2 separate regions of the Homo sapiens genome follow, and region 2 is linked to region 1. Evidence: fine-mapped expression QTL. A gene starts in region 1. The other region holds a variant in brackets. All regions are shown on one strand. Distances are from middle to middle. Region 1 holds the start of RFLNA (refilin A). Region 2 overlaps ZNF664-RFLNA (ZNF664-RFLNA readthrough).

Region 1 (5,372 bases):
AGCTGAGGCATATGCCACCAACTTTTATCAGAAAGGTGGTGTCGTTCACTGGATAGTGGAACAAAGACACCCACCCTGCCAAACGCGGTCTGAACCTGAGGCCCACATGGAAACCCGGCACCGCTCACCCCATCCTCTTCCTCGGGTGTTGGAAACCCTCAGCCGCGAGGCGCAGCACAGGTTTCCGCCTCTTTGTCCTGAGACAGTATGGGGTGCCGATATTTGCACCTAAAAAGCACTCTCCCTGAGTCGTCAGTGAGCAGGGTGCGGTTAAACACCGCTCAGCAAAGTTTAGCGGGAGTTAACGGGGAGGTGGGGCGCCCTGTGGGGTGGGCGATGGGTGGGTGGGCATGGCCACAGCGGCAAGCCCCAAAGCTGAGAAGAGTGGGCGCCAGGCAATCCTTTCTCCCTTTTATTGAAAGCAGCCCTTCAAACCTGGTAGGTACACAGGCATTTTGTTTTCCAATAAAAAAAAAATCACAGGTAGTTAATTAGCTGCACAGTGAAAAGGGGGATAATATGAGGTTGAAGGGCAGACTCTGCAGTCAGACTCTCTGGGTCTAGCCCAGCACAGCCGCTTCCTGGCTGGGCAACTTTGGGCAGGTTGCTAACCTCCTCTGTGCCTTGGCTTCCGCCTCTGGAAAATGGGGCTAATTGGAGTGTAGGCTTCATGGGAATATAGTGAAAATTAAATGAATTGGTGTAAATAAAGAGCTTAGGACAGTTATCCTGGCACACGGTATGAGCTATCTAAATGCCAAGTATCATAACCCATGAGGAAACAGCCCCGGGCTTTGCTTTTAAGCCAAATTAGAAGATCAGGGCAACACAGTTTCATACCTGGCATCTAGTGAGCAGGAAGGGGAAAAAATAAAGTCAAGTAGAAGAGCCAAGACAAGTAAGCCAGCCATGCTATTCTTGCGGCAGCCACGGGCTGGCCCGGATGGCAGAGAACGCTTCCAGAAAACCCTCTGTAAGGAGGCTTCTGGGTCATGGAAGGAACCAAGGAGAAGGCGGATTCCAGGTCGTTTTTCTCCAAGCCCCACTGTGCAAGGCACCACGGGGATTCAGTCCCAAAGTGTGCAGCTCAAATGGGCGACAGTGCCAAGTCCCAGAGGCTCTGGCAGGAAAGCTGGCCCCCTTTAGACAGCAAGATCAGGTTCACTTCAAACAGCCCTGGTCACCTCTATCAACTCCTGGAAGTCCTCACTGCCCCTTCCACCCGCCAGGCTCCCATAAAGAGACCAAAGTTCAAATTTGCTGCATGATTTGGTCTAAGATAGTGACTCCCAGACTTTGCTGAACAGTACAATCACCCAGGGAGACTGAAACCCTCCTGATGCCGAGCTGCACCCCCTATCAATTCAGTGAGACTATCTGGGCGGTGAGTGTGGGTGGGTTTTAAAGATTCTCCAAGTGATTCCAATGGGCGACCAAGTTTGGGACCCACCAGGCTAAGAAACAAGCAAGGCACGAATGAAGGTCATATCCTGAGGCTTGAGGCCGGGGAGCCGCTCCTTTCCGCTGTGGGGAGGAGGATTTTCAGCGGCGGGGAGGCCTTTTTTGCCCTGTGAGTGCCAGGCAAGAATCCCCGGGGCCCCAGGAAAGGGGAGTGGAGCCAGCACACACGCCCCAGCAGTAAAGCTGTTAAGGTGGGCAGGGCGCAGCCAGAGAGCGGGCAGGGATGGGCAATCACTCATTTCAACTTGTCATTTCCTCAGGCTGCAAAGGCGCCCGCTCGGCCCATATGCTTCCCCGCCTGCCGGGGGGTGCCCAGTCTCAGGCAAGGCGCCAAGCTGGGTCCCCACCGGAGTCCACCCCCAGGCTGGACTTAGTCTGGCAGGAGACAAACTCCTGAGTTTCCTGACCCGAGGTTCCAGCCTCCCCCTCCCGCCTAAGCTCCACGTCAACATGCCTTAACATCCCGGGAAGGAAGGAATCCTGTCTGGGTTTGGTTATTTAAAAAAAAGAAAAGAAAAGAAAAGAAGAGAAGAGAAGAGAAGAGAAGAGAAGAGAAGAGAAGAGAAGAAGAGAGAGAGAGAGAGAAAGAAAGAAAGAAAGAAAGAAAGAAAGAAAGAAAGAAAGAAAGAAAGAAAAGGCTTTCACATTGGCAGCGCCCGGACAGTAAACAGGGCACCCGGAGCAGCAGAGGGGCCGGGTCCAGATGTCTGCAACATGCTGGGCCTCTGGGCGCAAGCCCACCTAGCCAACAGCCAACTTCTTTGGGAATTTCGGACCGTCCTTTACCCCGCCCCATGAGCCCCCCATTATTACTGACAATAGGAAGAATCACTCTGGAGGGAGGCCCACCGCCAGGGAGCCGTCTCCAGGTCCGGGGTCAGCCTGGATCACCTCCCCCTACACACCCTGGTCCCCACCTGAGAAGCGTGGCTGTCACTGGCCACCTTCGTGGTTGCGGGGCAGGTAGAGGAGGAGGCACGTCCTGCTGCTGCAGTGGCGCGCGTCTCTGGGGGCAGCCCTCACCCACCCGCCCACGCGGTCCCCCGTTTGGGAGAGAGAGCGCCTCCTTACCGCTCTGGCCTCGCTGGGTCCCGGGGGCTCCGAGGAGGCGCCGGCGCCCCCCGCGCGCGCGTCGAGGATGCCGGGCGCCAGGGAGTAGAAGGGCGGGCTGGGGCTGGGGCTGGGGGGCAGCCCGGAGTCGGGGCTGTCCAGCAAGCCCTCCCGGCCCTGCTCCTTCAGGCTGTCCTCCATGCCCTGCAGATGCAGGTGGCCCACCATGTCTGGGGGGCGCGGGGCGCGGGCCCCCCGCTCCTCCGGGGGCTTCTCCACCGCGCTCCGGGGCCCGGGGCAGGCGGCGGCGGGGCGAGAGCTGCGCGCCCGGGGACCTGCGGGCACCGCGAGAGGCGGCGATCAGGCCCGGCGCCCCCCGCGCCCCGGATCCCCGCGGGCCTGCAGCCTGCTCGCCGCCGTGGGCCGCGCTCCTGCCAGCGCCGCCGCCCTCCGCCCTCCGCCCTCCGCGGCTCCCGCCCGCCGGGCCCAGCCTCGCCTCTGCGCTGCGCTGCGATCCCGCAGGCCGGCCCAGCCCCGAGGCGCACGTTGCCGCCCGGCCCTCTCCGCACCTCCCCGGCCCGCGCCTCCTTTTCTAGGCGCCTCCTCCTCCCCCTTCCTCTCCCCGCCCCGGCCTGCGCGGTGGGCAACAGCCCCGGCCCGGCGCCTCCGCCGAGGCCCTCCCGCTCCTGGGCACTGCGCGCCCAGCCAGCAGCTGGAGTCCCACGAGGCGCGTGTGTCCCCCACTCCCGGAACAAGCACCACACTGGCGCACCGAGGGTGCCTTGTGGGGTCCCCAAGTCATCCCAAGACATACGAGTAATCATCATCATCCTATTTCGTGGTGCTCTTGGAGGTTTTCTCCATCTCATTTGAAGTCCCAATAAAAGCAGCTTGAGAAACTTTATTTTAGAGTTTTCTTTTTCTCTGTAACTTACAATCGATGGGGAGGAGGGCCACCACAGCCCTAGTACTGGCGTCTCGGTTACCCGCACACCCAGGGCCAGCTCTTTGGGCCTTAAGGGTGGAAAGCATTGGGTGGAACCTGTGGGTGGGGGCGGCGGGGGCGATGAGCAGCACTTCCGGGAATCCCCCGGCATCTGGCTGTTCCTGCATTTTTTCCAGGCAGGTCCTCGCTCATGAACAAGGGTCCTGCCGGTCTTTCCCTTCTTTTCCTTCCTCCCAAGAGAGAAGAACACGTGTTTCCCTTCCTTACTGTTTTCTTATCAGATGCCTGGCAAAGGATGTCTGCATTTCCAGCGCCCAGCCACACAGACGCCCCCCACCCCACTCCTGAGGATCCATCCTTCCATTCTGCAAGCGGGGCAGCTGGGGGTGTCCACGGACTGCTTTGAAAAGCAGGAATGTGGGAGAGGCTAATAGGGCGAAGAGAACAGAGGTAGACTCCAGGAGGGGTGAAAGTGTGCCCAGACACACTCACTTCCATTCAGCTTACAGCAGAAAGCCCAAGATCAGGGGCGGGAAGCCGGGTGTCAGAATCCGCTCTTTGGACACCCCCAAACTGAGGGCAGCACTTTGAAGATGTTCTCAGGCTCCCATTCCGCACCCAGCCTTGGCCGGACCTCAGAACGGGCAGGCGTAAGACAGCAGGCCCCTGCCCTGTGGAGGGCCCAGTCTGATGAGGGAGCCTGTCAATGCACCAGGAAGCTAAGGCTGTGAGTCTAAGGGAAGGAACTTAATGAGGTGCTGCAACCAAGAATAGTCAAAGGGACAACTTAAGGCTTTGGAGTGTTCAGGGAAGGCTTCTTGGAGGAGGCGATTTTCAAAGATAAGATCTGAATAGCCAAGCAGTGAGAATTAGCGCACCATGTGGAGGGAACAGCAGGGCGCAGGCCCTGCAGCAGCAGGAGTAAGGTGCATGCCGGACACTGACAGAGGGTGGGGCCGCTTCCTGAGAGCCCACAGGGTGACAGGCATGCACCTGTCACCAGGTGAATTTACAGCCCATTTCCATGTCGCCCAGGAAAGAACGCTGGAAGTCTGCTGCCCAAACAGACCCAACTAACCAGAGGTTTGAATATTTGGAACATTCTGGGAAAAAAACAATGGGACTACGGATTCCATTTGCTTCAATTCTTAGGCAAGCCAGGCCCTCTTCAGCCCTTGGGCCACTTGACCAGAATGACTGGCTGAACTACTGTCACTGACTAGGACGAAAGCGGTGGGGGGAGGGGGCATTCTTTCTGGAACACAGACACATGGAAATTCACATTTCCCAAATGCTCACCCACCCAGACCCAGTAGTCTTCTGCTTCCCTGGAGAAAGTCTTCGGCAAGAACTAATTTCTTCTTATCTCAGGGACTAATGACCCCTTGGCCACAATAGCTACCCAGGGCAGGGCAGGATGCGGGCAAGGTGGAGTCTCAGAATTGCAGGGTTCCTCTGTCTTTATTTGAAATGTTGATATTTTGAGGCCTGGTGCGGTGGCTCACGCCTGTAATCCCAGCACTTTGGGAAGCTGAGGCGGGTGGATCCCCTGAGGTCAGGAGTTTAAGACCAGCCTGGCCAACATGGTGAAATTCTGTCTCTACTAAAAATAACAAAAAAATTAGCCGGGCGTGGTGGCGGGCGCCTGTAATCCCAACTACTCAGGAGGCTGAGGCAGGAGAATTGCTTGAACTCAGGAGGTGGAGGTTGCAGTGAGCTGAGGTCATGCCACTGCACTCCAGCCTGGGCAACAGAGCAAGACTCTGTCTCAAAATAAGATAAAATGTTGATGTTTTGTTCATCTTGAACTGTTTGCATCCATTTTGACTTTTAAAACATTGCAGCGAAATACCATTTGTGGTGATTTCTGTGTTTGGGCGATGTCCTGAAAGTCCCTTGCCCCACTCTACTAATC
Region 2 (5,372 bases), 58 kb after region 1:
GGCTCATCATAACTGAAGCGGAAACCTGGACACGGAGAAGGCAGAGAGTGCTGGGACCATCAGGCGCGGGGCTGTGAGAAGCTTTGTGTGAACATTATGAGTACAAGAAACAGTGGGGAAAAGAAAAAGTCATCAGAGAAGGGGGTGAGGTGGGTGAAGCTGTACAAGGATGGAGTGGCAGAGGCCAGGACAGAGAGTGGCCAGCCCCCCATGCTGGCATGGGACAGATGACCCAGCGTTGCTGAGATCACAAGACACTGATTGCTAGAGCCTGCATTGGTTGTCAGCATCTCCCAGGTCCCCAACTCCCGCACAGGCCCGGGATGCCTGGAGTCCCCTGTTCCCGGGTCCTGTGAGAGTCATCTCACTTTGATTTTCCAACGCAACATTTGGTAGGACAGTTGTTGGTTGGGAAACTTCTTTCACTTCTAGATGGCTCATGGATCTGGGTCTGGAGATGCTGGGATCTGCTGACGGGCCCTGAAATCTTTCTTCCTCCTTCCCTTTCAGAAACAACTCTCAAGAAACCAACTTGCTTGGCTCAGTCTCCCCGAAATCCTGTGGCCTGCAGCCTTTGGAACTGGGTTTATTTATTCATTTGAATTGGATCCTGGCATTTCTTTGTGTTTGTTCTCTCCATAAAGACCTTTTTATTTGGGTCCTGGAGAGCTGTTTACTGCTTAGCTCATGTGACATGAAGATTGTGAGGACCTGGAGGCCTTAACTCCTGTTACTCCCCAGCGAACTCTGCCCTCCAGGGAAACAGGTGGGGCTCCATCCAGATAAGAACAGCCTTTCCAAACAGGAACGACCTCACTCCCCAAACGCAAAGAGCTTAGAGATTAAAAATGCAGGCAACCTCCTACCCACTCATCCCAGGAAGGTGCAGAGTCCTAGGGACCCACTGGGAGAGGGCTGGATTGCTGTAATTAAAAGTACTTTTAAATGAGCATTTTGAAGTTTTCTTGTTCTTGGTTTAAAAAAATTAAAAAGCTAAGAAGGCTGAAACTGGGTAAAGGGGCTTTAGGCGTGGTGAGATGAAGATCCCGGTGAATTTTGGAGAGTGCTGTCAGTCCCGGGCTGTGGGCAGAGGCTGGCTTGACCAGGGGTCCTGAAAGGAGTGGACGGGTCAAAAGCAGACAAAGGAAACGTGGGTCACTCGCATGAGTTGCAAAGGGAAGGAGAGAAATCGAACAGTCCGTCATCAGACAAGTCCAAGGAAAGAGATGTTTTACTTCAAGAACTGGGAAGAACCAAGCATCTTTGAAGATGGAAGGGTTTTGTAGGGAAAGAGGGGAAGATGTTTTGGAGGAGGGTTGAGAAAGCAAGCAAAACTTGGAGGTAAATGAAAAAGGGTCAGACTCAAGAGCGGATGGAAGGGTGGGAGTAGAGATGAAAAATAATATTTGATTTATTGACTGAAGGGTTTTGATGCCGTGGGCAGGGCAGCGAGCGTTTTGCAGGTAATACTCCTCATAGCATCCCCCTGACATAGACAATACTATAGTACCCATTTTCCAGGCTCTCTCACCTGTTACAGGCATTCTCCTCTCCTCGAGGAGAACGAGGCTTACAGAGGTGGGACCTGTCTGTGGCCACACTGGGCAGATGCAGAATAGGATCTCATGAGGTGTCCATCAGAGGAGAACAGCTCATCCTCTGAGGGTGGAGGAAGGATGTCCTGGAGTGGCAATGTCCAATAGAAATAGAATTTGAGGCCAGGCACGGTGGCTCACGCCTGTAATCCCAGCCCTTTGGGAGGCCGAGCCAGGCAGATCCCCTGAGGTCAGGAGTTCGAGATCAGCCTGGCCAACATGGTGAAACCCTGTCTCTGCTAAAAATTAGCTGGGCGTGATAGCACACGCATGTAGTCCCAGCTACTCGGGAGCCTGAGGCAGGAGAATCGCTTGAACCCAGGGGCCGGAGGTTGCAGTGAGCTGAGGTTGCACCACTGCACTCCAGCCTGGGCGGCAGATCGAGACTCCATCTCAAAAAAAAAAAAAGGCCAGGCCCAGTGGCTCACACCTGTGATCCCAGCACTTTGGGAGGCCGAGGCGGGTGGATCACCTGAGGTCAGGAGTTTGAGACCAGCAAGGCTAACGTGGCGAAACTCCGTCTCTGCTAAAAATATAAAAATTACTCGGGAGGCCGAGGCAGGAGAATCGCTTGAACCCGGGAGGCAGAGGTTGCAGTGAGCCGAGATGGTGCCATTGCACGCCAGCCTGGGCGACAGAGCAAGACTCCATCTCAAAAAAAAGAAATGGAATTTGAGCCACAAGTGCAAACTGTGTGTGTATTTTGAATTTCCTAGTGGCCACACTAACAAGGGTGAAAAGAAACAGGTGAACAGGTGAAATTAATTTTCATAATGTAATTTACTTAGCCCAGTATATCTGAAATATTATCATTTCAACACGTGATCAGTATATACAAATTATTAAGGTGATATTTTGCATGATTTTTCCATACTAAGCCTTTGGAATTCGGTGTGTATTTCACATGTGTGGCGTATCTCCATGTGATCCATCTCCACCCGAAGGGAGAAAGCACTCAGTAGCCCCACAGGGCTGGTGGCTGCCATATTGGTAGGCAGAGAACTAGAGAATGACTCCTTCAGGAACTACTAAGCCATATCTTGGGGTCATAAAATGAGGAATCTTCAGGTTGGCTTCAGGCCCAAGACTTGTTACATATTTTTTAAAATAAACTTTTTAATTTGAAATAATTTTAGATTTACAAAACCATTGTATTCTTATGTATCTCAAACTCTAGAATCTTCCTGCGGCAGCTCAGGGTACATCAGCTGGTCCACAGAGTCTGGCATATTCAGGGCATAGGACTTTTGGGGTTTTGAGAAGTCAGACCAAGGCTGACCCAATTACTTGGGTGATCAGAGTCAGAATTCCCCAGAAATTACTCAGGGTATTGAGACTCTGTGGAATGTTCCAGAGTCCATGATAACAGAGGGAGCTGTAAAATATCTAAGTTATGATTC[G/A]GTTTTCTAATTACACCCAACTTCCTCTCTGGGTGAGCAACAGCTTCTCAGCTAACATTTACTCCCAAGGTGGTGGCCGGGGAGTGGGCACAGGACAGGAGACACCAGAACAATTGAGCGGTGTCAACAGCCGCTCTGGCCAGAAGTATCTGTCAGCTCCCGACTGACTGCAGCCACCCTGTCCAATAGAAACAGAATTCAAGCTGCATATGTAGTTTTAAATTTTCTATTGGCCACATGAAAAAATAAAAAGAAGTAGGTGAAGATAATTTTAATAACATATATTCCTTAACCCAGCACATCTAAAATATTACCATTTCAACAGGCCAACAATATTAAAAAATACGAATGAGATAGTTTACATTATTTTTTGGTACCAAGTCTTCGAAATCCAATGTGCATTTTATACTTATTTGTATGTCAATTTGCATGTTATATGTTAATGGAAAATTTGTAAAGTTATGTACATTTCATCAGTTATTTAAAAACTGTAAATTCCATAAAAGACTCCGTTCACAGTTGAAAAGCTAGATTCACCTTCTAAAGTTGTTTCAAACATACTTCAAAAGTTTCCTAACAACTGAATCAAGTATCAGTTTTTGAATTTAGGTTGATTAAAATTAAATTAAACTAAAAATCCAGTTTCTCAGTTGCATTGGCCACATTTCAGGGTTCAGTAGCCACATGTGGCCAGCAGCTACCATATTGGACAACAGCCGTTAACACACTGGGCACCTCCTGTTAACACTGGATTTCTTTTTTCAGCTCCAGCTCTGTCTCCTTGCCTTTAGCTTGTCCAAGTAAATCTTCAGACTTGGTTTTCTCATCATCAATTTGTCCTCGCTTTGCACTTTTCACCCAGCGAGGGCTTTGCCAATATGGTTGGCTTATGCCAAGGACTTCCGCTTCTGAGATGGAGACTTGTCTGGGGCATGGCTTGCCTTTGTTTTTCTAGATCCCCATCAACATCGGTCCTTGTGGAAACTACTCAAGGGGCTGTGGTGTAATTTGCAGGTCCTCTGCCCTTAGGAGGAGCACAGAAGTTGATGACGGAAATTGTTCTCTATGGTGCTGTCCTGATTTTTTTTTCCTATCCCCTCCTGAGCATTTGAACTGTAAGCCACCATTTCCAGGGCGATGCTGTGGGTGTGTTTATCTTGGCGTCTCAGGGAGGGGAGCCCTCCCAGCCTTGGTCATGTGGCTGTCAGCACAACACACCTGTTTTCTGTTTCTGGTGGTTGATGGGGACTCACTCACTGAATTTTGGGTCTTCCTTAAGTGCTTAAATTAGAGTAAGCAAATAAATAACAGGGGAAAGGGAGTTTTAGAAATTGTATGTACAAACCACTAAAATTTACTATACAACTTCCTCAGCCACAGATATTTTTCTAGGGAATTTGAACAGAGCCATAAGAAGTTTCTCTTCCTGGCAGGAGACGACCCTGATCTGTTTTCAGCCTAGGGGGCGTTGCACAAGAGTGTTGGTGCTATGACAAGATAGCGGTTCCCAATGTTCTTAAGGAGTTTTTCATCTGGAACCACTTGTGGCACCCTTAGGGTATTTCAAGCATTGAGGCATTCTAAAGATGGCTCATTTGTGGATGGTAGTCCTGATGGTGGTGATGATGGTAATGATGGTGGTGATGACAGTGATGACAGTGATGACAGTGTGATGACAGTGATGACCCTGATGATGGTGATGGTGGTGGTGATGGTGATGGTGATGATGGAGGTGATGGTGGTGATGGTGGTGGTGATGGTGATGGTGATGGTGATGATGGTGGTGGTGATGGTGATGGTGATGGTGGTGGTTATGGTGATGGTGATAATGATGGTGGTGGTGATGATGATTATGGTGGTAATGGTGATGATGGAGGTGATGGTGGTGATGGTGGTGGTGGTGGTGACAATTGGATTAACTGGAACCCAGACCTACCAGAGGACTGCATGGAAAAATGCTTTAGCAATTCATGTCATCTTTCTGGACCTCGGATTTCTTCATGAGTATGACAAGGCCTCTCCCCAGATATTCTCTAGGGTCCTTAACATTTTATTATCCTCAAACTGCAATGCTGTCATGGTGATGGTGATCATGGCAATGATGACAATATTAAGAATTAAAGTGATGCAGAAGGACCATCAGGCATGATAATTCGCCAAAAAAAATCTCTAATGATGTTAATTTTTGACTTTATAATTTATGTTGTGGCTCTTGATCAAACCTGTTCATGTTTTCCCTGTATAAAACTCATAGGTGAAACTTCTCTTTCCTTTTTAACTGTGAAGAATCACAAGTGGTGGTATTGCATGTTAGTTCCTTTTTCAAAAACCCACAGGGTTTATGTATTCATTTGGCAAGCATTTAGTGAACACTCAC

What was found. PIP is the estimated chance that this variant, and not a neighbour inherited with it, causes the effect.
Region 2: its variant is fine-mapped to the expression of RFLNA in fibroblasts (GTEx, PIP above 0.99). The same link has a PIP of 0.9 or more in aorta, tibial artery and visceral fat.

The regions. Positions count from the first base shown.
Region 1 is chr12:124,292,797-124,298,168 of GRCh38, reverse strand. It overlaps RFLNA (refilin A), which reads right to left and starts at 3,076. Exons shown (of 3, transcript NM_001365156.1): 1 at 2,533-3,076. The coding sequence starts at 2,739. The region is part of intron 3 of ZNF664-RFLNA (ZNF664-RFLNA readthrough); the gene reads right to left.
Region 2 is chr12:124,234,449-124,239,820 of GRCh38, reverse strand. All of the region lies in intron 3 of ZNF664-RFLNA (ZNF664-RFLNA readthrough), which reads right to left. Among named protein-coding and RNA genes, the nearest start is that of RFLNA, 58 kb to the left of the region's middle. The variant G/A (reference allele first, on the strand shown) is at 2,996.